2 linked regions of the Homo sapiens genome follow. Each later gene encodes a partner of the first gene's protein in a complex. Each region holds a gene or a part of one and is shown on either strand. Other genes may lie near its edges. The genes, in order: RHEB and MTOR.

What was found.
Region 2: the proteins of RHEB (region 1) and MTOR are in contact, whole or in part, in a cryo-EM structure (PDB 6BCU), measured with the Homo sapiens proteins. Residues at the interface, in NP_005605.1 of Homo sapiens: Lys5, Ser6, Arg7, Lys8, Arg15, Pro37, Ile39, Glu40, Thr42, Gln57, Ala62, Asp65, Tyr67, Ile69, Gln72, Thr73, Ser75, Ile76, Asp77, Asn79, Asp105, Met106, Val107, Gly108, Lys109, Val110, Ile112; in NP_001373429.1 of Homo sapiens: Arg62, His69, Glu73, Ala101, Thr102, Ile104, Gly105, Arg106, Asn109, Tyr110, Arg112, Asn113, Phe140, Glu143, Tyr144, Phe147, Glu154, Arg160, Thr969, Gln973, Phe977, Lys980, Glu1010, Phe1011, Gln1014, Met1018, Ser1050, Thr1051, Asn1264, Lys1293.

Annotation. Positions count from the first base shown.
Region 1 is NC_000007.14:151,505,254-151,521,010, reverse strand, and holds the start of RHEB (GTP-binding protein Rheb), read left to right. Parts: upstream 1-1,115; 5' UTR 1,116-1,499; coding exon 1,500-1,551; intron 1,552-2,033; exon of another isoform or gene 2,034-2,251; intron 2,252-15,757. UniProt on the Homo sapiens protein: Small GTPase that acts as an allosteric activator of the canonical mTORC1 complex, an evolutionarily conserved central nutrient sensor that stimulates anabolic reactions and macromolecule biosynthesis to promote cellular biomass generation and growth.
Region 2 is NC_000001.11:11,097,297-11,112,570, reverse strand, and holds the end of MTOR (serine/threonine-protein kinase mTOR), read left to right. Parts: intron 1-2,841; coding exon 2,842-2,922; intron 2,923-3,200; coding exon 3,201-3,281; intron 3,282-4,284; coding exon 4,285-4,390; intron 4,391-5,070; coding exon 5,071-5,086; 3' UTR 5,087-6,036; downstream 6,037-15,274. Other genes in the region: EXOSC10 (exosome complex component 10), read left to right, coding at 12,740-12,850, 14,415-14,551. UniProt on the Homo sapiens protein: Serine/threonine protein kinase which is a central regulator of cellular metabolism, growth and survival in response to hormones, growth factors, nutrients, energy and stress signals.

The sequences.
Region 1 (15,757 bases):
CTGGAGGGAGTCGCTCTTGGGTTGGGTGTTCCAAGTCGACTCCAGTCACCTCTAAACCTTCCTACGCTGGAATACAAGGCCTGCCACTCAGCTTCCCCTGGCTTCATTCCTCCCCACCGATCACTGGCAAAGGGCGAAGGGCCATGCCCGGCCTCTGCAGGTCCCCACTGCCAAACAGCCTGGGCAGAATAGGGGCGGGTTCCCCGGCGCGGCGGAGTCTCTGCTAACTCGGCAAGTGCCAAGCCCTCCAGCAGCCACCACGCCGGGCCTGCCTGCAGGCTGGTCCCTCAACGGCACCTGCGTTCCCGGCCGGGCTTCCCTTCCCGCGCCCCTCTGCACTGCACCCCTGGGAAGGCTGTGCCCACACCACGGTCTCCGCCCGTCCACACCGCGGCCCGAGGCGTTCCTGGCACCCGGCTCGGGCCTGCCCGCCGCACCAGCCGCCCCGGTGCTGGCGGAGAACCGGCTTCCCGCCCCGGCGCTGTTCCAGGAGGTGCGCCGAGCTCCGCGCGAAGCGAAGCGGACACCAGAACTGACGAGGCTCGCCCTGTTTTTAATGAAATTCCTAACACTTTGAATTAACGCAGACTCCATGCTTCCCACAGTCCTTCGGCCGTCGGTGACGCTTAGTCACCACTACATCCTCAAACCCAGACACGAACGCTAACGCAGCTCAAGGAGAATTTTCAAAAAACCCCGAGGGAGGAGCCAGCCCACCCGCCCAGGCCACGCGCCTCGCGCCCTTCACGGGCTCAGCGGGCGCGAACCCGCCAACCGCTTAGCGTTTCGCCAATCACCGCACCTCCCACCTATTGCCCCGCCCTGCGCTCCGTTCTGGCCAATCACCAGGGAGCCACCGTTTGTCTCTCCGCCTCTCCCGCCCGCCCCTAACCGGTTGGAAGTTTGAAGCCTTCAAACCTAGCCGGCGCCCAACAGCGCGGTAGCAGCGAGGTGTATTTTTAGCTCCCGGGCGGGCAGCCCCGCCCCCCCCTCCCCGCCTCCTTGTTTCCCCCAATGGGAGATGGAGTTTCCGACACGTCATCGCGCGGCTGTGCAGGAGCTGTCCAATCGGCGCTCGGGGAGAATGGCGTAATTAAAAAGCGGCGGAAGAAGGTGGGAGGGTCATGACGCAGCGAGTTTCAGTCGTGACTTTTCTGGGGGCATCGCGGCGTCCCCTTTTTTTGCCTTTAAAGTAAAACGTCGCCCCGACGCACCCCCCGCGTATTTCGGGGGGCGGAGGCGGCGGGCCACGGCGCGAAGAGGGGCGGTGCTGACGCCGGCCGGTCACGTGGGCGTGTTGTGGGGGGGAGGGGCGCCGCCGCGCGGTCGGTTCCGGGCGGTTGGGAGCGCGCGAGCTAGCGAGCGAGAGGCAGCCGCGCCCGCCGCCGCCCCTGCTCTGTATGCCGCTCTCTCCCGGCGCGGCCGCCGCCGATCACAGCAGCAGGAGCCACCGCCGCCGCGGTTGATGTGGTTGGGCCGGGGCTGAGGAGGCCGCCAAGATGCCGCAGTCCAAGTCCCGGAAGATCGCGATCCTGGGCTACCGGTCTGTGGGTGAGTGGCCGGTGGCCGCGCGGCCTCCTCGCGCCGCCGGGGCCTCGCCTGGGAGCCGGGTCGCGGCCGGGCCTGCGAAGTTTGGAGCCGGCGCGGCCATGTGGCGGGGCGGGCGGGGGCCGCGCGTTTCGTAACCACCATTCTGAGCGGAGGTGGTGGCGGTCGGGGCGGCGTCCGCGCCGGTGGAGGAGCCGCGGTAGCTGGGCGCCCTCCGCGGGCCGGGCGGGCAGGTGGCGGCCGGGCGGAGGGCGTGGGAGGCGCGGGGCGGGGGCCGTCGGCCGCCGAGGAGTCCGGGTCTCGTCTGGGGAAGTGAGGCGGCGCCGGGGAGCCGCGCTAGAGGCTGCCGCGAGGGAGTCACACCTGCCTCCCCGCCTTCGCCGCGGGCGCGCGTGACCGGGGCTGGCGGTCTCCCCCACCCCGCCCCCGATGTAAGGAAAAGAAAGTCCGTGGGATTTTAACAAAGGAAGCAGCGCCTCGGCTTCATTCCATCTGTGGTGAAGTTTACCCTTGTAAAGAAAACTAGGGATTTAGAGGACGTTTGGGCACTGAACGCAAGTTTTCTGCATAGGAAACCTAGGCGATCCCCCAAAAGAGGTCCCTCTGGAGGCCCTCGAGATGCTGCTGGCGGCCTGGGTAGGAAGACAGAGAAAAAGGAATGTCTGATCTCTCGGTGCCCTATTTTTGTTCGGGAAGGAATAAGGTCAGGTACTTGCAACCAGGCTGTTGAAGTAATTCCAAAGTCTTTTTGTTTTCTTTTTCTTCCCCCAAAAGGTTGACATACATTTGAAACAGTTCCTAGCAGTCGCCTTATTGCTGAATAAGGTGGCTTAGGGTCGGGTTGGGGGGCGGACGGGGTGTTACAGAACGAGCGGTTTTCTGGCCTGTGTGAAACCAGAGCGATTGAACTTAGACACGCTTCAGGGTGAGGCTGTATTGTCTCCCGACATCCGGAAGCCTGGAGAAATTAGTTCATCTTTTCGGGCTGTTTTGAAGTAACTGTCTATAGAAGGCGTGCACCGGGCCACAGTTGAGGGGATGGGGAGGTGAAAGCGAGGGTTCCGAGGCTCCCGTGATTGCGGAACGGGGTGACTATCTGTCATGGGAAGCTTGTACCTGCCTGCCGCTCACTGGATGCACTCCCCAACTGCGCTTTCCACCGCCTGTGCCAGGGTCTGTGCTCTTTGACCAAGATCAGCCACTGCATGCTTACTCATCCTTTTACCACCTCTCCGTCGAGAGCCGGGGGGAAATTAAGGGCTGAAAGAAGCTTGGCTAGAGATGCGGGGTGCCTAGAGTCGTAGGGGAACTCTTGTGCGATGCGGTGCTGAATCCGAGGGGATGCATAGGTGGCAGCTTTAACAGCTGCAGCCAGGAAGTAACCATGAATCAAATGGAGGGGTTCAAAGTCACTAATTGTTCAAATATCAACATGGAACCTGGGATCCAGCCTTTATTGGCAGCCTGAATCCATGCTCTTGTCTCTGTTCTCTTGATTTCCTCCTCTGCATTTTGAGGAGTTGGGACCGCGAGGTGTTCTGGCTCTTGGGTGAGCCTTCCCTAGTCAGTCAAGTAAGTACTTATTGGCAACTATTTGGAAATAGTAGTCCCTGAATAATCACGTTATAGGCAACAAGTACCTCGGCTACCTGATTTCAACCCAAGAGAATGACCTAAAGATCTTGACTGATTTACCCTTTTCAAATGTCGAAATGGTAGCTCTAGTCTTTGGTGAGCAGGGCTAGTTTTATCACTTTTTTTTTTTTTTTTTTGGCTACAGAAGTTCCTTATGTCCAGTTGAAATCCATTCTGTTTTATCTTCCCTCTATTCAGCGTCCTCCTGAGGACGGAGATGTGACAGGCCACCCCTTAGCCTTGTCCTCACAAACTGTTGCTTGTTAAATACTGTGCTAACTTAGTCTCCGGTGGGATACAGGGTCACTTTTAGTCCCTATTTTCTGTCTTCAGTATTTCATATTTCTGCAACCTACCCCACTTCTCCATATTTATTTTCAAGCGTAGTCATATTAAACGATTTTGGAGAGGTTAAGTTGCTCCCAATCTTGTATTTGATTTTTTTTTTTTTTTTTTTCCGAGACGGAGTTTCGCTCTTGTGACCCAGGCTGGAGTGCAATGGCGCGATCTCGGCTCACTGCATCCTCCACGCCCCGGACTCAAGCGATTCTCCTGCCTCAGCCTCCAGAGTAGCTGGCACTACAGGCGTGCACCACTATGCCCGGCTAATTTTGTATTTTTAGTAGAGACGGGTTTCACCACTTGGCCAAACGTCAGGCTTGTCTCAAACGCCTGACCTCAGGTGGTCCTCCCACCTTGGCCTCCCAAAGTGCTGGGATTATAGGCGTGAGCCACCATGCCCAGCCGCATTTGATTTTAAAGTGTATTATGAGCCAGGATATTTTGTAGTATGTGGGGTCTTTTTTAGGGGAAGGAGATTAGGTTTTGCCAGCAGGTTTCTTCTAGTAAGCCACCCTTTTGAGAATTACTCAGCATGCTCACTTCTGGGAGCTTACTGGCATGTTTGCTTGCAAATGGTGGTGCTGTACCAGAGAAATTTGAGTACCTGTGTTTCTAGATTGTGGTATTTTGTGATGCTGAGCTGTTTGTCCTATATTCTGGGGGTAGAGCCACATAAAAAGCCTCCACACCTTTCTTAGAATGTTCTCTTGATTAAATACATTAAGCCAGTTTGACTAGTAGGATACTTGTCATTGTGATTTGTCATGCCACAAACTTTATTTTTAAAGTTGTCTTCAGATAAAACAAAAAAGTGCTATGTTTGTTTAACTAGTTGGCTTTCTTTTTTTTTTTTTTTTTTTTTTGTGACAGAGTCTCACTCTATCACCCAGGCTGGAGTGCAGTGGCGGGATCTGGGCTCACTGCAACCTCTGCTGCCCAGGTTCAACCGATTCTCCTGCCTCAGCCTCCCAAGTAGCTGGGATAACAGGCGCCTGCCACCCCGCCCAGCTAATTTTTGTATTTTTAGTAGAGACTGGGTTTCACCATCTTGGCCAGGATGGTCTTGAACTCCTGACCTCGTGATCCACCTGCCTCGGCCTCCCTAAGTGCTGGGATTACAGGCATGAGTCACTGCACCCAGCCCACTACTTGGCTTTCCGTTTTCTTTTTTTCTTTTTTTTTGAGTGTTGTCAGAACTACCAATAGGTAAAATATAATTCTCAGGTAGTCTATACAATTCTCCCTGCCAGTCCCCTGTACTTTTCCTGGTATTTACAATGTTAAAGCTTTTAAGGACACGTCACCTATAACTCTGGGAGTCTGGCTTTCAGGGAGTGCTTTGTATTAACTGTTGCCGTGATGGCCAAAAGTACCAGCTCCCTGACATTCCGTTATTTCTACCACAACGGAGTAGTCCCGCGATAGGAAGTAACTCAACTTAAAATGGTAGTGTTACGTAAACTGTCTTCAGCCTGGTACATCTTTCACTGGGATTTTACCTGTACAGAGAGCTTTGGTAACCTAGTTTACCATTAGACCATAATTAAAAGCTGGTTGTCATATATAAGCCTCTTACATACAGTTAATAAGAGGGATGGGATCACAGGCATGTGAAAGATCATAGGGGGAAAATGAAACAGCTTTGTGGTTTGGAAGAAGGCAATTCAGCAAAAGTACTCAAATTATTACTTTGTCAAAATGTTTAGGTAGTATTTAGAGTCTTCATGAGGAAAGATGTCATTAAATATTTGGTTGTTCCCAGCAGATTCTGACTTACTGTTTATTTTTTAAGTTAACCTATCATTTGTTGACACTTTTTATTGAAAAATTGAAAGGCAAAACAATATTTGCTATGTATGACATCTACCAGTATGTGAAATTGTATATTCAGGTGCTTAATATTCTGATGTTGTATACTTGTGGGTGGGGGTAGTCCTGAAGTGCCCACTTTGTATTGAAACTTGAAATTACTGTTTTTCAGTCTCATTCATTGTTCTGCACAAGAGCATAATCAGAATTCAGATTTCTGATTATGGCTTTCCAGTGCCAAATGTTATTTTGCTGTCCATATGGGTTATATCTCTCTGTACTTCATCACCCCAAAAAGAAACTCTGTACTCATTAGCAGTCACTCTCCATCCTGCTTCCCTGTCAGCCCCTGGCAACCACTAATCTTTCTGTTTCTATGAATTTACTTACTCTGGACATTTCATATAAATAAGAACATACATATGTGGTCTTCTGGGGCTGGCGTCTTTTACTTAGTATAATGTTTTCAAGGTTCGTTCATGTTGTAGCATATGTCGCTTCTTCCTGTTTAGTGCTGACTAATATTCTGTCATGTGAGTATACCACATTTTTTCTATGCATTTGTCAATTGGATATGTGGGTGGTTTCTTTTCTTTCTTTTTTTTTTTGGCTATTATTTTTTATTTATTTACTTTTCTGAGGCAGGGTCTTGCTCTGTTGCCCAGGCTGGAGTGCAGTGGAGCTATCATGGCTCACTGCAGTGTCAACCTCCTGGACTCAAGTGATCCTCCTGCCTCAGCTTCCCGAGTAGCTAGGACTGCAGGTGTGCGCCATCACACCCAGCTAGTTTTTTTATTTTTTTGTAGAGGTGGGAACCTTGCTTTGTTGCCCAAGCTGGTCTTGAACTCTTGACCTCAAGCAATCCTCTGGTCTCAGTCTCCCAGTGTTGGGATTACAGGTGTGAGACACCACTTGGAGCTCTACTTTCTGGCTACTATGAATAATAATGTTTTGAACATTCCTGTACAAGCTTTTATGTAGACATGTTTTCATTTCTCTTGGGTACATTCCTAGGAGTGGAATTGCTGGGTCATTATGGTTAACTCTGTGCTTAATATTTTGAAGAACTGTCAGATTTTTTCCAGAACAGCTGCACAATTTTATATTCCCATCAGCAATGTATGAGGGTTTAATTTTCTCCACATTCTCGTCAACAATTGTTACACTGCCTTTTTCATTTTAGCCATCCTATTGGGTGTGAAGTGGTATCATAGGATTTGCAAATAATTTCTCCTGTCTGTGGGTTGTCCTTTTACCTTCTCGATGGTGTCCTTCAAAGCAGAAAGTTTTTAATTTGAAGGCCGATATATCTATTTTTCTCCTGCCACTTATGCTTTTGGTGTCACATCTTAGAAGCCATTGCCTAATCCAAGGTCATATAGATTTACTACTATATTTTCTTCTAGATATTTTATCCTGTTAACTCTTACATTAGATCTGTGATCTATTTGTGGTTAATATTTGTATATGATGTGAGGGAGGGATAGAACTTTATACTTTTGCATGTGGATATCAAGTTGCCCTAGCTTCTTTTGTTAAAATAATGTTCTTTCTTCATTGAATTCCCTTGTCCGAGATGAAGTGACCGTCAATAGAAGAACTCACTCATTCCATTGATCTGTATGTCTGTCCTGCCAGTACCATACGATCTTGATTACTGTAGTTTTGTAGCTGGTTTTTAAATAGGGGCATATGAGTCCTCTAACTTTATTATTTCTGAAGATGTTTTTGGGTATTCTCAGTCCCTTGCATTTCCATATTGAATTTTAGGACTAGATTGCCAGTTTCTGCCAAAAAAGCAACTGCAATTTTGATAAGGTGTTTCACGGTTTTGCAGGTATCTTTTAATGTCTTAACAGCTGGATTCTCATCTCTGCTCCTGAATTCATTCCCTTAACGTTATTTTAATGAAGTAAGGAGTACTTGAATAGTTTTTCAGGTAGTTGAATATTCTTTGATACCGAAACTTCATAAGTGATAGTTTGCAAAGAATAGTTACACTATGCAATCTGAAATCATATTGATGAATTTGCCCAACTCCGCAGGTCTGCTTTATACTTGGAATGGATCTTCTACCATGCCTGGTTTTGTAGCGTTACTGGTCATTTGGAAAATATTTGTTCATCGTTACGCAGATCTTCCACATGTTGACACATTTTATTATACAAGCATTTTTAAAAATCACATTTGTTAATATCACCACCAATCTCTGCAAAGTCTTAAGTTTTAGAACACTGTTCGCTATGAGTGGTGCAAGTTTTCCAAAATTCTAATTTCCTCCTTGAGTTCAAATAATTTCCTTGGCAACATGCTACCAGTTTTTACTTGAATTGACTGTTTTGTTTCTTTAATTTCCAAGAAAATGTCTGCCAGCTATTCACATTTGCAATAATGATAGTTTGTCATCATTCTTGCAAGTAAAAAAGGCATTCCATGATAAAAGTGGCCAGTTCAGATCACTTCTCAAATGACTGCACAAGTGCTTTTTTTGGAAACAACCATCATACTTCAGTATGTAACAGAGGTGCTTTATGTGTACATCTCATTTTGTCGTGCAGAATATTAAAAAGACAGGTACCAAAGGGTCAAGATTTAATATAATTTTACTGCTTTTTCAAGGACACTGTTAAGTAGAAACAGCTCTTTTCCCACTGTGAATGCATGGTAGTAAAGAATACAGTGACTTACCACTCAGTTTGTAACTACTGTTTTTGATTCATGCCAAGGGGTGCCGAGCTAGCAGTTTTCCCTACCATTGCTTTTGCACCCTTAGTACAAATGGGAACTTTGTGGAAAAGGCAAATGATAACTTAATATTGCTATGAATATCGTTTTGACCTCATGAGACCCCTGAAAAGATTTTGGTAAACCCCTTAGAGGTCCACAGACCACCCTTTGAGAACCATTAAACTGTTGTAAGCTAGGATCTTGTTCACTGCTGTGCAAAATCGAATTGACAGTGACTGCATCCTAAATGCTGTTCACAGCGATATGGTTCCCACAGTGTTAGAAGAGCCTCCTAGGAGAGGCCCTGTAGCGTTGTGAGAGACAAAGATGGCAAGGCAGGAAAGAACTTGGCGTGGTTAGAATGGAAGGAAGCACGAGGGAGGCCAGAGAACATCAGGAGAGTTATGATATCTGTGTGCCTATTGGTTTGGCCTCTGATTGTGTTGCATTTTTGGATGAGTTGTGTTTGGACCTGGTGATGGCGAGGCTCCCAGAGAGTAGTGAAAATTGCAAAGAGTAGCAGGATACCAGAGACCCATATACTAATAATATAGTTTTTAAATACGAGTATCAGGATGAAGGTGGGGAGGAGTACACAAGTAAAAATAGCAACTTTATCACAGAATGAGACACTGCCACCTCTACCTGTGATTGTGGAAGGTCAGAGATGCACAATGCTTTTCTTGGGTGAAGATTCAGAATAACAAGTTCGCAAACAACTGTAATAGTGTCCATGGCTGGATTGTTCTTAGTTACTTGAATAAATCAGAACTGAACTTGCACATGATTGTGCAAGTGAGAGTATTATGAAATCTTTAGGGATCATACTTGAAGGAACCTTCATTCTTAGTTCTAATTTATTCTGAAGTACCAAATGAAATCTTAACATTGATACAGTACTCACGGTCTATCTTCGTCACGTCATTCTTGCTAACTGTGAGAATGCAAACTGCTGAGTCCTTTTAACATGAATTGCTGGATTGATTTTTAAATATAATCAGCTGTGCGCAGTGGCTCTCGCCTATAATTCCAGCACTTTGGGAGGCCAAGGCGAGTGGATCACCTGAGGTCAGGAGTTCGAGACCAGCCTGGCCAACCTGGCGAAACCCTGTCTCTACTAAAAATACAAAAATTAGCTGGGCGTGGTGGTGGGCGCCTGTAATCCCAGCTACTAGGGAGGCTGAGGCCTGCAGGAGAATCACTTGAACCCGAAGGGGGAGGTTGCAGTGAGTCGAGATCGCGCCACTGGGCGACAGAGCAAGACTCCATCTCAAAAAAAAAAAAAGAAATCTAACATTTTAAAGGTTCTGGAATACTATTTTAGTATTTTAATTTTCTTCAATATATGTTGGGCTTCTGGTTATTAAAAAAAAAAAAGGAGTTCCTGTAGGATTGGAGCTTTAAATCTAAACTGGTATTAGTTTAGAACAGGAAGTGCTAGAAAAGCCTTTACGTTGTGCTCTTATGGGCAAGTTAAGAAAGCAGGGCAGTTTAAAGATAGTGATAGAATTCACTCCGAAGTGTCATGCTTGCTTGGTTTGCGTCTTATCTGTAGTAGAATTGAGTCTTTCTCTCCCGCATTTCTCTTTTTGTTGTGCTTACATGTTTGCAGAAGGACTCCTCATGGACATTTGAAAGAGAAGTTGGTGTTTTAGCAAGATACACCATCCCACCTTTTGCAGGATTGAGAGTTGAATGTTAATAACTACCTGATGGCATAGTACATAATTTGTGAATGGGGATGCAAATATGGGCTTTTACAGTTAATACAGTTTTATGAGATGAAATGCTTTTCTAAGACTTCTGTGTCTTAGATATAAATGTGTCTGCCTATTTTGCTAGCTTTATTTTTTTTTTTATTTTTTATTTTTTGAGACGGAGTCTCACTGTGTCATCCAGGCTGCAGTGCAATGTCGCGATCTCGGCACACTGCAGCTTCAACCTTCCAGCCTCAAGGATCCTCCCGCCTCAGCCTCCCGAGCAGCTGGGACTATGGGTGTGTGCCACCATGCCCTGGCTATTTTTTTATTTTTTTGTAGACATGAGGTCTTACTTGTTGCCTCGACTGGTCTCGAAGTCCTGGACTCAAGCGATCCAGCCACCTCAGCCTCCCAGAGTTCTGGGATCACAGGCTGAGCCACTGCACCTGTATTTTGCTGGCTTTAAAATCTCAATCACATTTGGCATTTGTTTGAAAGAGAACATTTGGGCCAGGCCCCCAAAGATTGAATCACTGCAACTGTTGGTTGAAGAGGACAGTTTGTGAGTGTTATGTGTTATTCAAATTAGGTGTTCATTAAGCATTTGAATAAATGCTCTACTTTGTACCAGTCACAAAAGCTAGGACAGTTATAATCCTTGCCCTCAAGGAGCTTCAGTCTAGTTGAGAGCCACAGGAACTTGTTCCTGCTACTGAGAATAATAATTGTTGGTGCTTTTGAAGCATTTACTGTTATGGGGTACAATCTTAATGCACATGTATTAATAGCCTTTAAACTCGGGTAGGTGCAGTTGTTACACCTATTTTGCAGATAAGGAAACTGAAGTACAAAAAGTTTATGTGACTTGCCCAATGTCAAACTGTTGTTAAGTGACAAAGCCAGGATTTTGAACTCAGGCAGTGGCTCCAGAGCAGGCAGTCTTTAATCAGCTACTACACGATTGTTACTTAAATACAGTTGGGATAGGTGTTTGAGAGAAATAATCAAAGGCAGGGCTAACTTGATCATCAAGTGGGGATGGGGGTGGTGGGAGAATTGTCTTTAAAGGAAAGGCAGTGTGGCTCACTGAGTGAATGAGAAGGGTGAGGTGTGAGTAATGAGAGAGGTCGGGACTCATGTGTTTGCCAACTGTCCTTCAAGAACAGTTTTGTCTGCTCTGTGAAAAGTTTTAGACTTTTTCCTAGAAACTGTGGGAAGTGACTGAAGGGTTTTAAGCAACAAATAAGACGATGATCTATACCAGGGACTGGCAGACTTGTTCTGTAAAAGGCCAGATAGTAAATATCTCAAGCTTTGCAGGGCAGGCCATGTAGCCTCTCTTGCAGCTATTCTACTTTGCCTTTGTAGGACGGAAGCAGCCACAGACAATACATCAACGAGTGGGTGTGGCTGTGTGCTAGTAAAACTTTATTTATGGATATAACACTTGAACTTCATCTGATTTTCAGTATCATGAAATACTGTTTCTTTTTCCAACCACTTAAAGATGAAAAAAACATTTTTAGCTCATAGACTGTACAAAACCAAAACAGGCTGTAGGCCAAATTTGGCCCCTGGTCTGTAGTGTGCTGATCCTGGCTTCCATCCTCCTGCTGTTCTGTGAAGTGGGAGGGGTGGTAAGGGAGTAGAAATGGGAAGACCAGCCAAGGCGCAGAGTAGATGAGATGAAGAGGACGCACATGGGAGATTTCCTTAGAGGGAGAATGGGCAAGACCAATGTGGAAGCTGTGAAGTAGCCTTCAGATTTCTCATGTGAGTGCCTGAGTAGGTCATGTTGCCATTGGCTAAAATCAGAAATGATGGAACAGGAGCAAGTTTAAGGGGTGGACCAGATTTATTTATGCACCTGCCAGATCCACACACTTTCCTTGCTTTCTGGCCACAGAGGCCCTAGCGACCACCCACACAGGGCACAGTTCCCATGGTCCCGAAGACAGGTGGCTGTGCCTACAAGTAGGGTTCTGAGGGTTTGCTGGCCCTGGGTCCTTGTGTCACCCAAGGATTTGACCAAGCATACCCTCACACCGCAGGATTGTTGCCCCAGAGACAAATGAGGTTGCTGGGCCCGGGTGGCCCCACACGCTCACGTTGCCCACTCAGGCAGGCAGTGTCTTACTACAAGGATGTTTGTCATTCCTGCTTGCTGGGAGGGGGAGTTGGACTCTTTCTCTAGATCTTTTCATTCTGCATAAGAGTGCTACAAAAATGTGTGAATATGTTTTATAATAATAAATTGCTTTCTTAATCTAACCATGTTTCTGTATGAGCAGTGTCCTAAAAAATTGAGCTGTACACAAAATGAGCCTACCTTCCAATTTTTTTAGACTTCTATGGAAGTATTTCTGGAGCACAAATTTAGGGAGCTAAATTTATACAAATAATATGATCCTATTCCCTTAAACAAGGGTACAGAGCAGCCTTGCCCAATGGAAACAATCTGGCCTGGTGCAGTGGCTCACGCCTAGAATCCCAGCACTTTGGGACCCAAGGTGAGAGGACCACTTGAGCTCAGGAGCTCCAGAACAACCTGGGCAACACAGCGAAACCCTGTCTCTACAAAAGTGGGAGGCTGAGGTCTCAAAAAAAAAAAAAAACTAAAAATATAACCTAATGTAATTTTAGATTTTTCCAGTAGGCATATTAAGTAAAAAGAAATAAGTGAAATTAATATACTTAATTTAGCTCAGTATGTCCAAAATGTTATTTCAACATGTGATGGATATTGTTGATATTTGTACATTTGTCATACTTACACTGTGACACATCTCAGTCGGAACTGAGCACATTTCAGGTACTTACTGTCCATGTATGGCTACTGGCTGCCATATTAGACAGCCCAGATACTGTGAGGAGTGAATTGGTGTTGATAATGAGGTCAGCGCAGATTTTAAGAACTTTTGAAGAAATTATCTTTATAAAATATGAATGGTTTTAACCATTCAGGCTGACGGATGAGTATACTCTATTTCATATCTCATTTTCCTCATACTGTGTTATTACTAGTTTTGATCATTCTTAAATTTCATGTTCTTTAATATGTTAAGAAATAGAGAATTTTTGTCTTTGCTTTTCTCTAGCTCTTTCCCACCCTCACCTGTATCCCAGGTCTTCTCTCCAGATTGGCCACCGTTCTAGGAAAACTCATTCTTCATTGTTGCTAAACATTTAATTTCCTGCAGTTTATCAGGGCTATTATTGTTGCCTTCCACCTCAGCTTTGTCTTTAAACCATCCTGTAGAGATGAATATCCTGTTTTGAAAATCTCCAGGGAAACAGTTTTATGGCCTTTCTGGGTAGCACTTTATTTTTCTTTAGTTTAATAATCCTGTTAATAAAATTCTTCATTTATGAAACTGAGTCCTTCATGTTATATAATTAAACGTATTTCTTATTTTCCTCAGTGGTATATATCTGGTAGCATAATAATTGGCAATAGGGTTACCTATAAGTATTTGAAAGGGTATTTTTATGAACTAGTTTTACTTTTTCTGCCTTGTCTTTGTCATAATAATAATAATTGCAGTTTAATTTTTTCTTTTTTTTAAAATCTCCCAGCATCTATTTTTAAAATTGGGGAAGGGGTGTGAGAAAGAACAACATGATGTCAACCCTGCTTAGCTCACAGGAACAAGCGAGATAATTCATGTGAGAATGTTCCGTAAACTCTAACGGTGTCTCACTTTTTAGGTTCTGTACAATAATTAAGATGTGTATGTTCTGCATCACACACTCTCATCTGACTCTATATGACGGACATGTGGGGATTGGTATTCCAATTAGAATCGTAAACATCTTTTCAAAACACTTCCTTAGTGACACTATATATATGTGTGTGTGTAATATACATAGACACACACAATACAACACATATCACCCCTCCCTCTCGAAAAAGCAACAACCACCAATCCTGCCATAGGGGGAGCTACACATTTCTTACTAGAGTGGGTGCATACGATTGTTAAGCATATGATTGGCATTGTGTGTCATGTAAGGAACACATAGAAACCTTTATGCGGTTCATTGTTTTTCCAGCCTTTTAACAGTGGTGATTCAGGTTTCATTCCATTTATAAGCCAGGTGAGTCTGCAGTCTTTTTTCTGCCGTTTACAAACCAAGTCTGCTTTACTGGTGTCTGTTCTATTGTTAGTCCCCAACGAGGCACTCTCCTGGTATTCCTGTGCTTGCCCTGTGACTGTCTTGAGCCTGCAGAATGCAGCAGAGATGGTGATGTGCCAGTTCCAGGCTTTAAGCCCTAAGAAGTTGGCAGCTTCTGCTTTTGTGTTCTTGGGAGCCTCAAGTGATGTGCAGTAGATGTTAGGAGGAGACACAGAGAAAGGGAGAATGCCCCGCCTTCCCAGCTGTGTAGCACCACCAGCCCACCAGATAAAGGCCCCCCAAAGAGTAAACTAAAAGTGAGCCCAGCGTTGACTGTAGAACCATGAGCACATGAAATGGGTGGTGTCAGTCACTCAGCTGTGGGTAAATGAAACAGTAATTTTCTGCTTTAGGGGTATATGTATGTTTGTTATTTTGCTTGTGTTATTTTGAGGCTTTAGTTGAAATAGTTACTGTATGTCATCTTTCAGGTTAATTTATTAGATATAATTCCGAAAATACTTTTTTTATCCTAAGCGGATTATTTCTGCCTAAGAGCAGTTACTAATAGTATTACTAATATTAATAATAATGAGATTTGCTGAGCACTTGCTACATGCCAGATGTTTGGTATACATTTTCATTTAATCCTCACAAAGCACGTTATAGGATAGGTACCATTATGATGTCCATTTACAGATAAGGAAAAGGACTCAGGAAAACTGCCCAAAGTCACATAGCTAATAACCACCATCTCATACTGTTTAGTAAAAAGTAGTAAATGGGCTGGGCATGGTGACACACACCTGTAATCCCAGTGCTTTGAGAGACCAAGGTGAGAGGATCATTTGAGACCAGCAGTTTGAATACAGTGAGCTATGATCCTGCCATTGTACTCCAGCCTGGGCAACAGATAGAGACCCTGTCTCAAAAAAAAAAAAAAAAGTAAATGCATTATCTTTTAAAAAAAATCTTTTTTTCCTAAATCAAGTTTATTGAGGTGTAATTTACATATAATAAAGTATCCATTTTAAGTGTAGAGTTGGATGAGTTTTGACAGATTTATGCACCTATGTAACCTCTGCCTTTATCAAAATATGAAACATTCCGTCATCCCCACAAGTTCTCTCATGTCCCTCACGCCCTACCCCAGCTCCCCGGGAAGCACTGATCTGCTCTCCATCACTCTGGGTTAGTTTTTCTTACCCTAAAATTTCACATACATCGAATCATACAATATATACTCATTTTTGTATGTCAGTTAGCATAATGTTTTTGAGATTCATCCATGGTGTTGCATGTATAATTTCTTTTTATTGCAAAGTGGTATTCTGTTGAATGGATATACCTTAATTTGTTTATCTGATCACCCATTGGTGGATATTTGGGTTATCCCAGTATTTAACTATTAAGAATAAAGCTATTATGAGCATTTTGAGTAAATGTCTTCGTGGACACACAGTCATTTCTCTTTGGTAAATACCTAGGTGTGATATTGCTGAGTCACATATATGTTAAGTGTATACTTTAGGAGAAACTACCAAACTGTTTTTCCAAAACATTTTGACCATTTTATGCCTCCACTAGCAGCACATGAGAGCTTTGGTTGCTGCCTGCCCATCCTCCCTGATACTTGGTATTGGCGGCCTTTCTAACTTTCTAGCTATTCTCAGATGGTAGGTTGTGGTTTTATTTGAAATTTCCCACTAAGAATGGTGGACATCTTTTCATATACCTACTGGAAATTTGGATATCTTGGTTTGTGAAGTGTCTGTTCAAGTCTTTTGCCTAGATTATCAGATTCTTCTTACTGAATTATATATTCTGAATAAAAGTCCTTTTTCAGATGTGTATTTAATGAATATTTTCTCCTAGTGTGA
Region 2 (15,274 bases), on another chromosome or scaffold:
GGAAGTAAATCTAGTTTTCTCGTGGTTCTTGACAGTGATAGTTTTGCAAAGGTGCTATTACTGCTAGCTTATCACCTGATAAGCATTTAATTGAACTTCAAATACTTGGTCTAGAAATATTTACTGAGCACCAAGCAGCTAATATGTTTTTTATTTACTGTTTCACACATGGAGTGGGTACCTGAAGCTCTGAGATTTTTATCAAACTATCTGATTTTAATCTATCTGTAAAAACACAGTTTAAAGTATGTCTGAATATCAGCTCACTAATGGTGTCTGGGTTGGAATAATTATTAACAGTATTACCTTGGTCCTCAAGCATTGATAATAGCTCAGAAATGGGAAGATGGAAGCAGCAGAAATTTATTTGCGTTGCTGGGAGGAACCCTGGAACCACATGGAACAGTGTTTCTAGGAGCGCGACTCACAGAGCAGGGGTCTAGAAGACTTGTGTCCCTCTGAGAGCCAGAGTCCTTTTTGTGTGTGGAAACCTCTCAGGAGTGTTTGAGTCAAGCTGTTTAACTTTTATTTTATTTGTATTAGTTTCCAGCACACACAGCATTGAAGTTACTGGTTTTGGGGGGTTTTTTTGTTTGTTTGTTTGTTTGTTTTTGAGTAAAATTGTTTAACTTTGTTTAGCCCTCCCCTCTTCCCCGCACTCCCCATCCCACCCCTTTTTTCCTTCGTGACATTTAGCAACACCCTACATAGTTCATACTTTGGGAATTACTGTTAGGGTGTAAAAAAGTATATCTTTTCTACAAATGTTTACAGAGCACTTACAACTAGTTAATAAACTAAGCCAAATAATGTCTAGGGGTGCAAAAAGAAAATGTGAGGTACAGTGGTCGCCTGAAGAAGCACAGAAAGCATTACAGAATTGACCATAACCTGCGTGAAATAGTCAGAGAGCAGGAGACTCTGCCGTGGAGCCTGCGGGTGCTTTCGTGTGGAGTAGGGCTGTGGAGATTCAGAAAAGGGGACTTCACTGTGAACCGTAGCTGCGAAGAGAGCACTTGGGTTGGTGGCATCTAACCATCACTTCACCTGACAAAGGGTAATTTTTCTTTCTTTTTTTTTTTTTTTTCTTGAGACAGAGTCTCGCTTTGTCACCCAGGCTGGAGTATGGTGGCGCAGTCTCGGCTCGCTGCAACCTCTGCCTCCCGAGTTCAAGCAATTCTCCTGCCTCAGTCTCCCAAGTAGCTGGGATTACAGACGCATGCCACCATGCTCAGCTAATTTTTTTGAATTTTTAGTAGAGATAGGGTTTCACCACGTTGGCCAGGCTGGTTTCGAACTCCTGACCTCAAGTGATCTGCCCGCCTCGGCCTCCCAAAGTGCTGGGATTACAGGCATGAGCCACCCCACCTTGCCAAAGGGTAATTTATCCTTATTGGATGGGTGGAATCTGATGGGTAGAAAGGAAAAGGGTGTTTCAGGCAAGAAATTGGGATACTGGCTTATAATGTCATACATGGACACTGTGACAGGATTTGTGAATGCCTGAATCACCAGGCTCATAGGACACACAGTCTCTGGGGGAGCTTATACTGGTGGCTGGTCTCAAACGAAGTGTGCTGAGACTTACTGGCTTCATTCTCAGGGCCCACCTCCCTAACAATTCTCAAGTGGCTACTATATGCTGTCTGTAGCATACAGAAGGGAACTAGGACAGCCAGTTCTGCTGGCACCAGATGGTGGTGGATTTGGTTGTTTAGCTTAAAAGTTAAATTCCAGCTGGGTGTTGTGGTGCACACCTGTAAGCCCAGGAGGAGCACTTGAGCCCAGGAGTTTGAGACTAGCCTGGGCAACACAGCAAGACCCTGTCTCAAAAAAAAGAACTTCCAATGGATCATTAATAGAAGTATAACTATCACCCGGGTGCGGTGGTTCATGCCTATAATCCCAGTACTTTGGGAGGCCCAGGCAGGCGGATCACCTGAGGTCAAGAGTTTGAGACCAGCTTGACCGACATGGAGAAACCCCATCTGTACTAAAAATACAAAATAAGCCAGGCATGGTAGCGCATGCCTGTAATCCCAGCTACTCGGGAGGCAGGAGAATCTCTTGAACCTGAGAGGCAGAGGTTGCAGTGAGCCGATATCATGCCACTGCACTCCAGCCTGGGCAACAAGAGCGAAACTCCGTCTCAAAAAAAAAAGAAGTATAATTATCACTACCTTCATTCAGAAGGTCTGTGATGTACAAGGACAGCATTCAAAAAACTTCATAATTCTGATTTCAGACTCTTCTCTGCTAAAAGCCATAATCAGTGGAGGGTGAACCTAACACCTGAGGACTTTTTCTACCCAGAGCTGATATGAAAATTCCTCCAAGGAATAACATTTCAACCTTGTGTGTGACACATTCCGAAGTTAATTTTCTTTATCAGTTTTTGTCCAAACACATTTTGTCACGAGGCTTTTGACCTGTTCTTATTCCTATGAGTTTATTTTGTTAATGCAATTTGCCTGAAAATCCATGTTTCAATTCTGATAAGCACCAAATTTTTTCAATAATTATTAACTCACATTTGAAAATGGCTTTACAGATTTAAAAATTTTTTTTTTTTTTTTTGCAAATGGAGTCTCAGGCTGGTCTTGAACTCAGCTACTCAAGTGATCCTTCCACCTCAGCCTCTTGAGTAGCTGAGATTACAGCTATGTCCAGCTTAAAACTTTGAAATACATAAAGAGTAACATAAAACTTTCCTTCTCTTTTCCCCTTTAGGGTAGGTAGGGCAGGCGTTAAAGGAATAGAGTGCGTAGAGAATTAGATGCTAACACCAACAGTGGCTTTTTGGTGTTTGAATTTTCTGTTAATTGATTTCTTTTCCCATAGAAATTTTGGACGGTGTGGAACTTGGAGAGCCAGCCCATAAGAAAACGGGGACCACAGTGCCAGAATCTATTCATTCTTTCAGTAAGTTCAGCCTCTGAGGAACCGCACCAGTGACTAGCTCATTAAGAAAATAGCAGCTGTGTTATACCCTGAGAGGGGTCAACAAGATGAAGCAACAAAACTGCCTTTGAGCAGAAAAGGTTCCATGAATTTCTCATTATATTCTGAGGACAAAGACGGACATAGAGGAAGGATTGCTTAACACTTACAAAAGTGAATATTTGAGAAAAACAGGGCACCCATTGAACCTGTTGTATTGCTCCCATTCTTACAGTTATTTCTACTTTTGTGTATTCCAGTTGGAGACGGTTTGGTGAAACCAGAGGCCCTAAATAAGAAAGCTATCCAGATTATTAACAGGGTTCGAGATAAGCTCACTGGTGAGTGTGTCATGTGTTTACTTAAAAGGGACATAAAATCTGAGCACACTTTCCTCTCTGAGTGGTGGTCAGCCCCATGTCCAGTGGTGTTAGTGACGAGCTTTGGCACCATGCAGCTGACAAAGAGTGTCTTTGAGGTCATCAGTTAAACATTGTCTCTGATTCTTCTTTCTGATGACTGATAACAGTACTTAATGTTAGTTTAATCTCATTTAACTCAGGAGGTGAATAAATTTCTTTTGGGTCCAAAATCAGCCAAATTCAGAGAAGTGTTTTTTAATCATGTCTTTTTTTTGTTTGTTTGAGACAGTTTTGCTCTTATTGCCCAGTCTGGAGTTCAGTGGCTCCATCTTGGCTCACTGCAACCTCTGCCTCCCAGGTTCAAACAATTCTCCTGCCTCAGCCTCCCGAGTAGCTGGGATTACAGGTGCACGCCCAGCTAATTTTTTGTGTTTTTAGTAGAGATGGGGTTTCACCATGTTGGGCAGGCTGGTCTCAAACTCCTGACCTCAAGTGATTCACCCACCGCACCCGGCCGAATTTTTCTTTTTTTCTTTTCTTTTTTTTTTTTTTTTTTGAGACAGGGTCTTGCTCTGTCACCCAGGCTGGAGTGCAGTGGTGCGATCTTGGCCCACTGCAACCTCCACCTTCCAGGTTCAAGTGATTCTCCTGCCTCAGGCTCCCAAGTAGCTGGGACTACAGGCATGTGCCACCACACTCGGCTAATTTTGTATTTTTAGTAAAGACAGGGTTTCACCATGTTGGCCAGGCTGGTGTTGAACTCCTGACCTCAGGTGATCTGCCTGCCTCAGCCTCCTAAAGTGCTGGGATTACAGGCGTGAGCCACCGCACCTGGCCAAACTTTTCAAATCCAACTATGATGGTATCCTTCATCTTCATGTCTGACGATAAGCTGTTGGCATAGACAGTTAAGCCCACAGGGAACAAGAAGTGCATCGATTGCCAGGAAGAGAGTGAAATGTTTTTGTTCCTCCTGTGCTAGGTCGGGACTTCTCTCATGATGACACTTTGGATGTTCCAACGCAAGTTGAGCTGCTCATCAAACAAGCGACATCCCATGAAAACCTCTGCCAGTGCTATATTGGCTGGTGAGTGGGGCTCTCAAAGTGACTTTGTTAAAATAAGCAATCAGGTCCCAAGCCTAGGCCCCAAAGCCAGAGTAGCAAAAAGAGATTTGGTGAGGTATCTGTAAAGGGCAGTTAGAGCTCAGATCTCTTTAAAAATTCATATTTACTGCATGTGCCCATTGTTATAAAAAAAGAAACTGAGAAATATGGATGCATACTTGGAAGGCAAACACTAAAATTAAAATTACATTAAGATAAGTGGTTCAGGAGAATAGGCAAGGCTTGTTTGTTTGTGAGGGGTTCCTTTTGGGTTTTGCTGTCAGTCCAGTGCAGAGATACAGGAAGGGCGAAGGAAAGAAAAAGCTAGAGCAGTGACAGAGAGAAGGAGATAAAAAGACAGATTTATGATCTGGGAGTCTAACCTCAAGGGCCACTCTGGGGTGTGCTTTGATTAATTGCCCAAGGCATGCTTGAAGGCAGAAACTTGAGAGAGCGGGCGCTGGGGAAGTGTCCTTGCGGGACCTCGGTGGGCATTAGCCTTGACTGGAAATGATGAGTGTGTCCCATGCAATTAGCTGTGGGAGAGCTCAGGGAATACCCTAGGGTTGTCAGACCTTGGCCTTTTCATTTTCAAGTTATCTGTGTAAACCTTTGAAGAAGCTCAAATTATTAAAATATTCCTTTTCTTTCTGCCTTCTTAGGTGCCCTTTCTGGTAACTGGAGGCCCAGATGTGCCCATCACGTTTTTTCTGAGGCTTTTGTACTTTAGTAAATGCTTCCACTAAACTGAAACCATGGTGAGAAAGTTTGACTTTGTTAAATATTTTGAAATGTAAATGAAAAGAACTACTGTATATTAAAAGTTGGTTTGAACCAACTTTCTAGCTGCTGTTGAAGAATATATTGTCAGAAACACAAGGCTTGATTTGGTTCCCAGGACAGTGAAACATAGTAATACCACGTAAATCAAGCCATTCATTTTGGGGAACAGAAGATCCATAACTTTAGAAATACGGGTTTTGACTTAACTCACAAGAGAACTCATCATAAGTACTTGCTGATGGAAGAATGACCTAGTTGCTCCTCTCAACATGGGTACAGCAAACTCAGCACAGCCAAGAAGCCTCAGGTCGTGGAGAACATGGATTAGGATCCTAGACTGTAAAGACACAGAAGATGCTGACCTCACCCCTGCCACCTATCCCAAGACCTCACTGGTCTGTGGACAGCAGCAGAAATGTTTGCAAGATAGGCCAAAATGAGTACAAAAGGTCTGTCTTCCATCAGACCCAGTGATGCTGCGACTCACACGCTTCAATTCAAGACCTGACCGCTAGTAGGGAGGTTTATTCAGATCGCTGGCAGCCTCGGCTGAGCAGATGCACAGAGGGGATCACTGTGCAGTGGGACCACCCTCACTGGCCTTCTGCAGCAGGGTTCTGGGATGTTTTCAGTGGTCAAAATACTCTGTTTAGAGCAAGGGCTCAGAAAACAGAAATACTGTCATGGAGGTGCTGAACACAGGGAAGGTCTGGTACATATTGGAAATTATGAGCAGAACAAATACTCAACTAAATGCACAAAGTATAAAGTGTAGCCATGTCTAGACACCATGTTGTATCAGAATAATTTTTGTGCCAATAAATGACATCAGAATTTTAAACATATGTATATGAGTGGCGTTTTAGTCATAATTTTGATCAGTTCAAAAAGGAAGCATTTACTCTCTTCAGCACTCAGCCTTCAGTAAACACTCTGTAGTAGGGATGACAGAGGACGTAAGGGTGTACGTGACATGGTCCCTTTCCTCAGACTGTTCCCAGGCCAGACAGGTGGAGACAGCATGCCACTGAAGTGAACAGAACTTACCCCGGCCAAGTGCTGAGAAGAGGCATGTATGGGCCACAGGTAGGAGCGTGTATTCCACCGGGTGAGCCTGGAAAGCCCCATAGAAAGGGGGACATTTGGCATGGGTCTTAAAGAGGGGTGGGAGTCTGTCAGATGAACCAAGGGGGGGGCATTCTCAGCAGAAAAGGAAGTGTGAGGCACTGCTGTAAAAGCAAGGTATCCATAGCAGTGGCAAGTATCAGTTGGACCATTTGAAATCACAGGTACGTGGACCATTTTTAATATACAAAACTGGCATTTTCTTATGGCTGCACCTCATAGTTCAGCATGTCTGGCTCAGTGGTCAGTGGGGAATAAAGGGAGTAACAGGAAAATAATAGGAACTAAAGGAGGCAGGAAAGCAGTACGGGGCCGGGGCCAGACCGGGGCCTCCCTCAGTTCAGCAGCAAGGAGTATGAACCTGATGCTGTGAAGTTTTAAAACGGAGTAGTATCTGAGTGGTGTTTTTTGTTTTTGTTTTTGTTGGAGACTGGGTCTCGCTCTGTCACCCAGGCTGAACTGCAGTGGCACAGTCATGGCTCACTGCAGCCTCGGCCCCCTGGGCTCAGGTGATCTTCCCGCCTCAGCCTCCCAATTAGCTGGGACTGCAGATGAGCACCCCCACCGCCAACTAATATTTGTATATTGGGGGAAATTCACCCCCGATATTTCACATAGGTTCTTTTCTATATTCCCTAAGTGTCAGCCGGTCTGAGAAAAGGGACAGAGTACAAAAGAGAAATTTTAAAGCTGGGTGTCCAGAGGAGACATCACATGTTGGCAGGTTCCATGATGCCCCCCTGAGCCATAAAACCAGCAAGTTTTTATTAGTGATTTTCAAAAGGGGAGGGAGTGTACGAATAGGGTGTGGGTCACAGAGATCACGTGCTTCACAAGGTAATAGAATATCACAAGGCAGTGGAGGCAGGGCAAGATCACAGGACCGGGGCAAAATTAATATTGCTAACGAAGTTTTGGGCACGCTTTGTCATTGATAACATCTTATCAGGAGACAGGGTTTGAGAGCAGACAACCAGTCTGACCAAAATTTATTAGGCGGGAATTTCCTCGTCCTAATAAGCCTGGGAGTGCTATGGGAGACTGGGGCTTATTTCATCCCTACAGCTTTCACCATAAAAGACGGCCGCCCCCGAAGCAGCCATTTCAGAGGCCTACCCTCAGGGATGCATTCTCTTTCTCAGGGATGTTCCTTGCTGAGAAAAATAATTTAGCGATATTTCTCCCATTTGCTTTTGAAAGAAGAGAAATATGGCTCTGTTGTGCCCAGCTCACCGGCGGTCAGAGTTTAAGGTTATCTCTCTCGTTCCCTGAACATTGCTGTTATTCTGTTCTTTTTTCAAGGTGCCCAGATTTCATATTGTTCAAACACACATGCTCTACAAACAATTTGTGCAGTTAATGCAATCATCACAGGGTCCTGAGGCAACATACATCCTCATCAGCTTATGAAGATGACGGGATTAAGAGATTAAAGTAAAGACAGGCATAGGAAATCACAAGGGTATTGATTGGGGAAGTGACAAGTGTCCATGAAATCTTCATAATTTATGTTCAGAGATTGCAGTAAAGACAGGCGTAAGAAATTATAAAAGTATTAATTTGGGGAACTAATAAATGTCCATGAAATCTTCACAATTTATGTTATTCTGTCATGGCTTCAGCCAGTCCCTCCATTCAGGGTTCCTGACTTCCCGCAACATTTTTTGTAGACAATGGGGTTTTGCCATCTTTCCCAGGCTGGTCTTGAACTCCTGGACTCAAGCAATCTGCCCCCCTCAGCCTCCCAGAGAAGCCACTGTGCCCAGCCCTGAGTGGTGTTTTTAAAAGGCAACTGGTGGCCAGGTGCAGTGGCTCACACCTGTAATCCCAGCACTTTGGGAGGCTGAGGCAGGTGGATCACCTGAGGTCAGGAGTTGGAGAGCAGCCTGGCCAACGTGGCCAAACCCCGTCTCTGCTAAAAATACAAAAGTTAGCCAGGTGTGGTGGCATACACCTGTAATCCCAGCTACTGGGGAGGCTGAGGCAGGAGAATTGCCTGAACCTGGGAGGCGGAGGTTGCAGTGAGACAAGATTGCACCACTATGCTCCAGCCTGGGCAACAGCAAGACTCCGTTTCAAAAAAAAAAAGGCCGGGCATGGTGGCAGGCGCCTGTAATCCCAGCTACTCAGGAGGCTAAGGCAGGAGAATCACTTGAACCGGGCAGCAAAGGTTGCAGTGAGCCGAGATCGCACCACTGCACTCCAGCCTGGGTGACAGAGCAAGACTGTTTCCAAAAAAAAAGGTGAATTTAAATCTCAATGGTGATACTAATAACAGTTCTAACACTCACAGCTAGAAAGTCACATACCTACTTGGATTTTCTGTTACAGTCCTAAACCATGTATCACCTATTTGCTCCAGAAAATATGGTCACCATAACTTTCCTGGCTCCAGATGAAATAACTCTCAGTGACTACAGTGATGTTACTATTCATGAACGATAAAGGTGTGAGAATGATAAAGGCAGGAAAATGGTGGCCATCAGTGATAAAGATATATTCTTTAGGATATAAGAGTCTGGATTAAGGTCTTTGGTGAATCCGATAGGTTTTAAGTTATATCTAAGCAAAGCCTTCTGGGTGTGTTGAGACAAATTATCAAAGGCAGAGGAGGAGCTAGTGGAGGCCTTTAAATACAGTTTAGTCCAGCCAGGCACGGCAGCTCATGCCCGTAACCCCAACACTTTGAGAAGCTAAGGTGAGAGGATTGCTTGAATCTAGGAGTTTGAGACCAGCCTGGGAAACATAGTGAGACCCTGCCTCTACAAAAAATAAAAAAATTCGTTGGGCATGGTGGCATGGGCCCAGTCTACCCTGGATGCTGAGGCCAGAGGATTGTTTGAGCCCAGGAGTTCAAGCTTACAGTAAGCTATGATTGTGCCACTGCACTCCAGCCTGGATGACAGAGACCCTATCTCTAAAAATAAATACATAAACAAGGATGAAGATCTTTATGATGATCCACTTAATGAATAGTAAATATATTTTCCTTAAAATTTTCGTAATTTATTGTAAGAATACAATACATACACACAATATGTGTCAGTTGACCGTTTGTTATCGGTAAGGCCTTTGGTCAACAGGAGGCTATTAGTTAAGTTTTGGGGGAGTTAAAAGCTATATGTGGATTTTCGACTGCTCAAAGGGATGGGAGCCCCTAATCACCAGATGTTGTTAACAGGTTAACTATTTTTTTCTTTTTTTTTTTTTTTTTTTTTTTTTTTTGGAGACAAGGTCTGGCACTATCACCCGGGCTGGGGGGCAGTGGTGCAATCTCAGCTTACTGCAACCTCCACCTCCCGGGCACGAGTTATCCTCCCACCTCAGCCTCCTGAGTAGCTGGGACTACAGGTGCATGCCATCACACTCGGCTAATTTTTGTATTTTCTGTAGAGACTGATTCTTGCCATGTTGTCCAGGCTGATCTCAAACTGGTGAGCTCAGGCCATCCTCCCACCTCAGCCTCCCAAAGTGCTAAGATTACATGTGTGAGCCACTGCGCCCAGCCAGTTGTATTTTTTAAGAATCAAGGCTGAGGCCGGGCATGGTGGCTTATGCCTATAATCCCAGCACTTTGGGAGGCCGAGGCGGGTGGATCACGAGGTCAGGAGTTTGAGACTAGCCTTGCCCACATGGTGAAACCCCATCTCTTACTTAAAAATGCAAAATTAGCTGGGCGTGGTGGTGCACGCCTGTAATCCCAGCTACTCAGGAGGCTGAGGCAGGAGAATCACTTGAACCCGGGAGGCAGAGGTTGCAGTGAGCCAAGATCATGCCATTGCACTCCAGCCTGGGCAATAGAGTGAGACTTCATCTCAAAAAAAAAAAAAAAAAAGAATCAAGGCTGTAGTGTCAACTTACTAAGTTTCAAATATCAACTGCATCTCATAGTACCTTTGTGACCTTGGATAAGTTACGTAGATTCTCTCTGCTTGTCTCCTCTGAAAGTGTGGGTAAGCCCTACCTTGTGAGGCTGTCTGAAAGACAAGATAATCCATGGAGGAGCATTTAGCACAGCCTGACTGACATGTGGTATTAGGTTGAACCACGTGAAATAGGTCCTCAAAAATACTAAATGAACTAGGCGTTTGTCCTGCCAGAGTACCTGTGTACCTGAAGCACACACACGGAAAAAGTGAAAAGCAAGTATTCTCTTAACTGGATATGCTGAACATTTATTGAAGACTTAATGGGTGGAATGAATTGTATTAAGGGCATCCCATCTCTAATTTCAGGAGAGTGAATCTATCTCTTGAGCTGCCTGATAATTCGGTGCCTCCCTCACAAGAGCTCTTCCAGGAGTTCACTTCACAAATGTGTACTGAGTTCCCACTCTGTGTTAACCAGAATGGTTCCAGCGATGTCTGCAGGAAACAACGTCTGCTTGGAGGAGTTCAGAGGGTACTGGAGGGAGGAAGCACAGTTGGAGCTAGACGCTTTCTTCAGGAGCTTACCTGTAAAGGGCAAGAGAGAGATGATGGCAGTTGGAAGGAGATGTGGGAGCCAGTGTTTTTTCCTTTTCTCTTTTAGTTGGGAAAGATGTCAGTGTACTTGTAGGCTGTTAGGAATGAACCAATAGAGAGGGAAAAGATAGATCCAGGGGGCAGGGGAGGTGTAATTAATTACAGGAGTCAAGACCAAATGGGTGAGGGGAACACAGAACCAGCCAGAGCTTGGGAGGAGGTGACTTTAAATATGAGGCTGGGCCGGGCACAGTGGTTCCTGCCTGTAATCCCAGTGAGGTGGGAGGACGGCTTCAGCCCAGGAGTTCGAGACCAGGTTGGTAAGATGCAGTCTAAAAAAAATAAGCCAGGCGCTGGTGGCGCACACCTGTAATCCCAGCACTTCGGGAGGCCAAAGCAGGTGGATCACTTGAGGTCAGGAGTTCAAGACCAGCCTGGCCAACATGGTGAAACCCCATCTCTACTAAAAATACAAAAAAAAAAAAAAAATTAGCCGGGCATTGTGGCACACGCCTGTAATCCCAGCTACTTGAACCTAGGAAGCGGAGGTTGCAGTGAGCTGAGATTGCACCACTGCACTCCAGCCTGGGCAGCAGAGTGAGACTCTGTCTCAAAAAAAAAAAATAAACAGGGCAGGCACGGTGGCTCCGCCTGTAATCCCAGCACTCTGGGAGGTCGAGGCGGGAGGATCACAAGGTGAGGAGTTCGAGACCAGCCTGGCCAATATGGTGAAACCCCGTTTCTACTAAAAATACGAAAAAAATTAGCCGAGCGTGGTGGTGCACGCCTGTAATCCCAGCTACTCGGGAGGCTGAGGCAAGAGAATTCGTTGAACCCGGGAGGCGGGAGGTTGCAGTGAGCCAAGATTGCGTCACTGCACTCCAGCCTGGGCAACAGAGTGAGACTCCATCTCAAAAAAAATAAAAATAAAAATAGGCTGCACGCTGATGACTCGTATCTGTAATCCCAGCACTTTGGGAGAGCAAGAGTGAAACTTTGTCCCAAAAACATGGTTTTTTTTGTTTGTTTGTGACAAGGTCTCACTCTGTTGCCCAGGCTGGAATGCAGTGGTTCGATCTCGGCTCACTGTAACCTCCACCTCCCGGGCTCAAGCCTCAGCCTCCCGAGTAGCTGGGATTACAGGCATGTGCCACCACGCCCGACTAATTTTTGTGTTTTTAGTATAGACAGAGTTTCACCATGTTGGCCAGGCTGGTCTCCAACTCCCGACCTCAGGTGATCCACCCGCCTCGGCCTCCTAAAGTGCTGGGATTACAGGTGTGAGTCACGGCGCCCAGCCTCAAAAACATAACCTTAAAAAGAAATTTTTGAGACAGGGTTTCATCCTGTCACCCCGGCTGGAGTGCAGTGGAGCCTCCACCTCCTCGGCTCAAGCAACCATCCCACCTCAGCCTCCCGAGCAGCTGGGACTACAGATGCGCACCACCACTCCCGGTAATCCCGGTTTGTTTGTTTTTTAAATTTTTAAATAAACACGAGGATAAGCGGGGATCGTGGCCCTCGCCTGGGGTCCCTGCTACTTCGCAGGCTAAGGTGGGAGGATCTCTTGAGCCCAAGAGTTCGAAACCAGATTGGGCAAACCTCGTGTCAAAAATATATGTGATAGTCAGGTCCTCCAGGCCGCACCCTAGATCACAGGGTTGTTGGGATGATACAATATGAGGTAAAAGAACGTGAAATTCACACCAGAGCGCTCGAAAGTGCCACCCTAATCGCAGGCTTCCCAACCTAATCGCAGGCTTCCCAACCTAATCGCAGGTGCCCCACCCTAAACGCAGGCTTCCCAACCTAATCGCAGGCGCCCCACCCCAATCGCAGGCTCCCCACACTATAATCAGACGCCCCGCCCGCCGCTTCGACCTGGCGCATGCGTGGTGCGCACGCGTCCCGTCTCCTCGGCCGACAAGCTCTCGCGAGACGAGCCGTGCAGGCTGAAAAAATGGCGCCACCCAGTACCCGGGAGCCCAGGGTCCTGTCGGCGACCAGCGCAACCAAATCCGACGGAGAGATGGTGCTGCCAGGCTTCCCGGACGCCGACAGCTTTGTGAAGGTGAGTTCGCGGGGCCTCGGGGGTACCAGGAGTCGCCCGCGGCCGCCGGAAGCCGACTGGGCCCTCTGGGCAGCCAATGCCCGCCCGCCGTAGTGGAGCCCGAGCGAGGGTCGCGGGGCCCCTGTCCGCGCTGGGCGCAGACTCTCCTGCACCCTCCGGGGATGGGGCCTCGGAAACGGACACTGAGGGGCGTCCCGCTTGCGAGCCTAAGTCCATGGAGGCCCAAATGTGGAAAGCCGTCTCGCATCCTGGGAAAGGCTTCCTTGCCACCCAGACGTCCCTAGCCCTTGCGACGTCGCGCTCGCCACGCCCTAGCCACCCGACCAGCTCTCCGCAGGGGCTCGGCTTCTTCGCGCTCCCCACACTTGCCTGGAGTTGTCTCCTCCCGCGGCCAGTATGGCCCTTCTCTTCCTCTGTTTCTGAAGTCCAGTCCTACATAATTTTTAACCCTGAGTTAAATGTCACCTGTTAAAGCCCCATTGCACGTTTATTAGTAACTCCTGGAAGGTATACAGGGCGTTCACTTAAGATCTTTGTATAACTTAGCTTAAATATGAGCAAACGTACAACTAGGCTTAAGGTGTGCATAGCTCTTACAAAGCAATGAAACTAAAATAATTTGTAAATTAACCCTATAAATTTACAGAAATTCCACTAACGTTGTATCTTATCTAATTTGCTGTTAGCTAATGCTATTGATTCATTAACATGGCTCTCAATAGTTCCTGGACCACTAACTGTGGTCCTGGTTGTGTGGCGGTCATGCTCATAAGCTACCATGTTCCCCTCCGTGACTTAATTTCCCACCTCCTTTCTCTGCTTTTTTCTTGGGAAATGTTTATTCACAAAACTCACAATGACGTTTTAGGCCTTCACATGATCAGCCATCATTTATGTCACTTCACGGCTTTTTTTCGTTACCTCACAACAGTTAAAATAGAGAACCACTTGACACTAACTGAACAATAAACACAAATCCAGTTTTAGATAGTAGCTGTTATAAATTTGTCGTCCAAGGATCTAGGATAAGCTTGTATTGTTTTTAGATGCTCATCCAGATGAAAACACAAAAACAAATTCCTGTAGAAAGCTCTTGGATCTGAACTTGAGTCGTAATAATAACGCTTATGTGCCAAGAACTGTCCTAAGTGCTTTTATTAGCTTATTCATTCTGTCCTCACAAAAACTCTGTGGTGCAGGCCCTTTTTATTTTTCCTGTTTCTCAGAGGAGAACACTAAAGTCCAAATAAAGCAATCACTTGTCCAAGATCTCAGTTAATACGTAGCAGAGTCAAGATTCAACCCCAGGTATTTGTGAATATTAATCAGATTATATACGTATGTATTCTGTCTCTCAACTCTCCCAAGAATATAAGCTCCAAACTTGGTTTCCTGTTCAGTATTGTATTCTCAGGGCCTAGATTAGATTGGGGTTTGGCACTAAATGAGTGCTTTTTTTGATGGATGAAGAGTAGATACCTTGTATACGATAGATCAAAAAAATGACATACCAAATGAATGGGGATCCCTGTGTAAACATGCCATCTTTTCTTGTTTTTGACAGTTTGCTCTTGGGTCCGTGGTGGCAGTCACCAAGGCATCTGGGGGCCTACCACAGTTTGGCGATGAGTATGATTTTTACCGAAGTTTTCCTGGCTTCCAAGCATTTTGCGAAACACAGGGAGACAGGTTGCTTCAGTGGTAAGTACTGTACTTTGTTTTCTTGTGTTAGTGAAAAGAAATGAAAACAAAGAAGTAGATAAATTTTTCCTGAAATTTATTTTTCCTTAAACATTTTCTGTGGTATGAAGAGCTATAAAATGTGAAAATTGAAGCAATGGATTTTGATTAGGGAAATATTACTTGGTATATTTTTAGTTTAGCCTTTAAAAAATGTATTGACTTTTGTACTGAAAAAATATATTGACTTTTGTACAAATCTTTTTTAATTAAATGGGACGTGAACACTTAGAGCCAAGATTCTTTTTTTTTTTTGAGACGGAGTCTCGCTCTATTGCCCAGGCTGGAGTGCGGTGGCATGATCTCGGCTCACTGCAAGCTCCGCCTCCCAGGTTCACGCTATTCTCCTGCCTCAGCCTCCTGAGTAGCTGGGACTACAGGTGCCCGTCAACACGCCCAGCTAATTTTTTGTATTTTTAGTAGAGACAGGGTTTCAACATGTTAGCCAGGATGGTCTCGATCTCCTGACCTCGTGATCCACCTGCCTCGGCCTCCCAAAGTGCTGGGATTACAGGCGTGAGCCACCGCGCCTTGCCAGATCCAAGATTCTTTCCCACAACTTGTAGAGTAGCAGGTATTTTTATTTTTATTTTTATTTTTTTTGAGATGGAGTCTCGCTCCATCACCCAGGCTGGAGTGCATTGGCTCAATCTCGGCTCACTGCAACCTGCGCCTCCCAGGTTC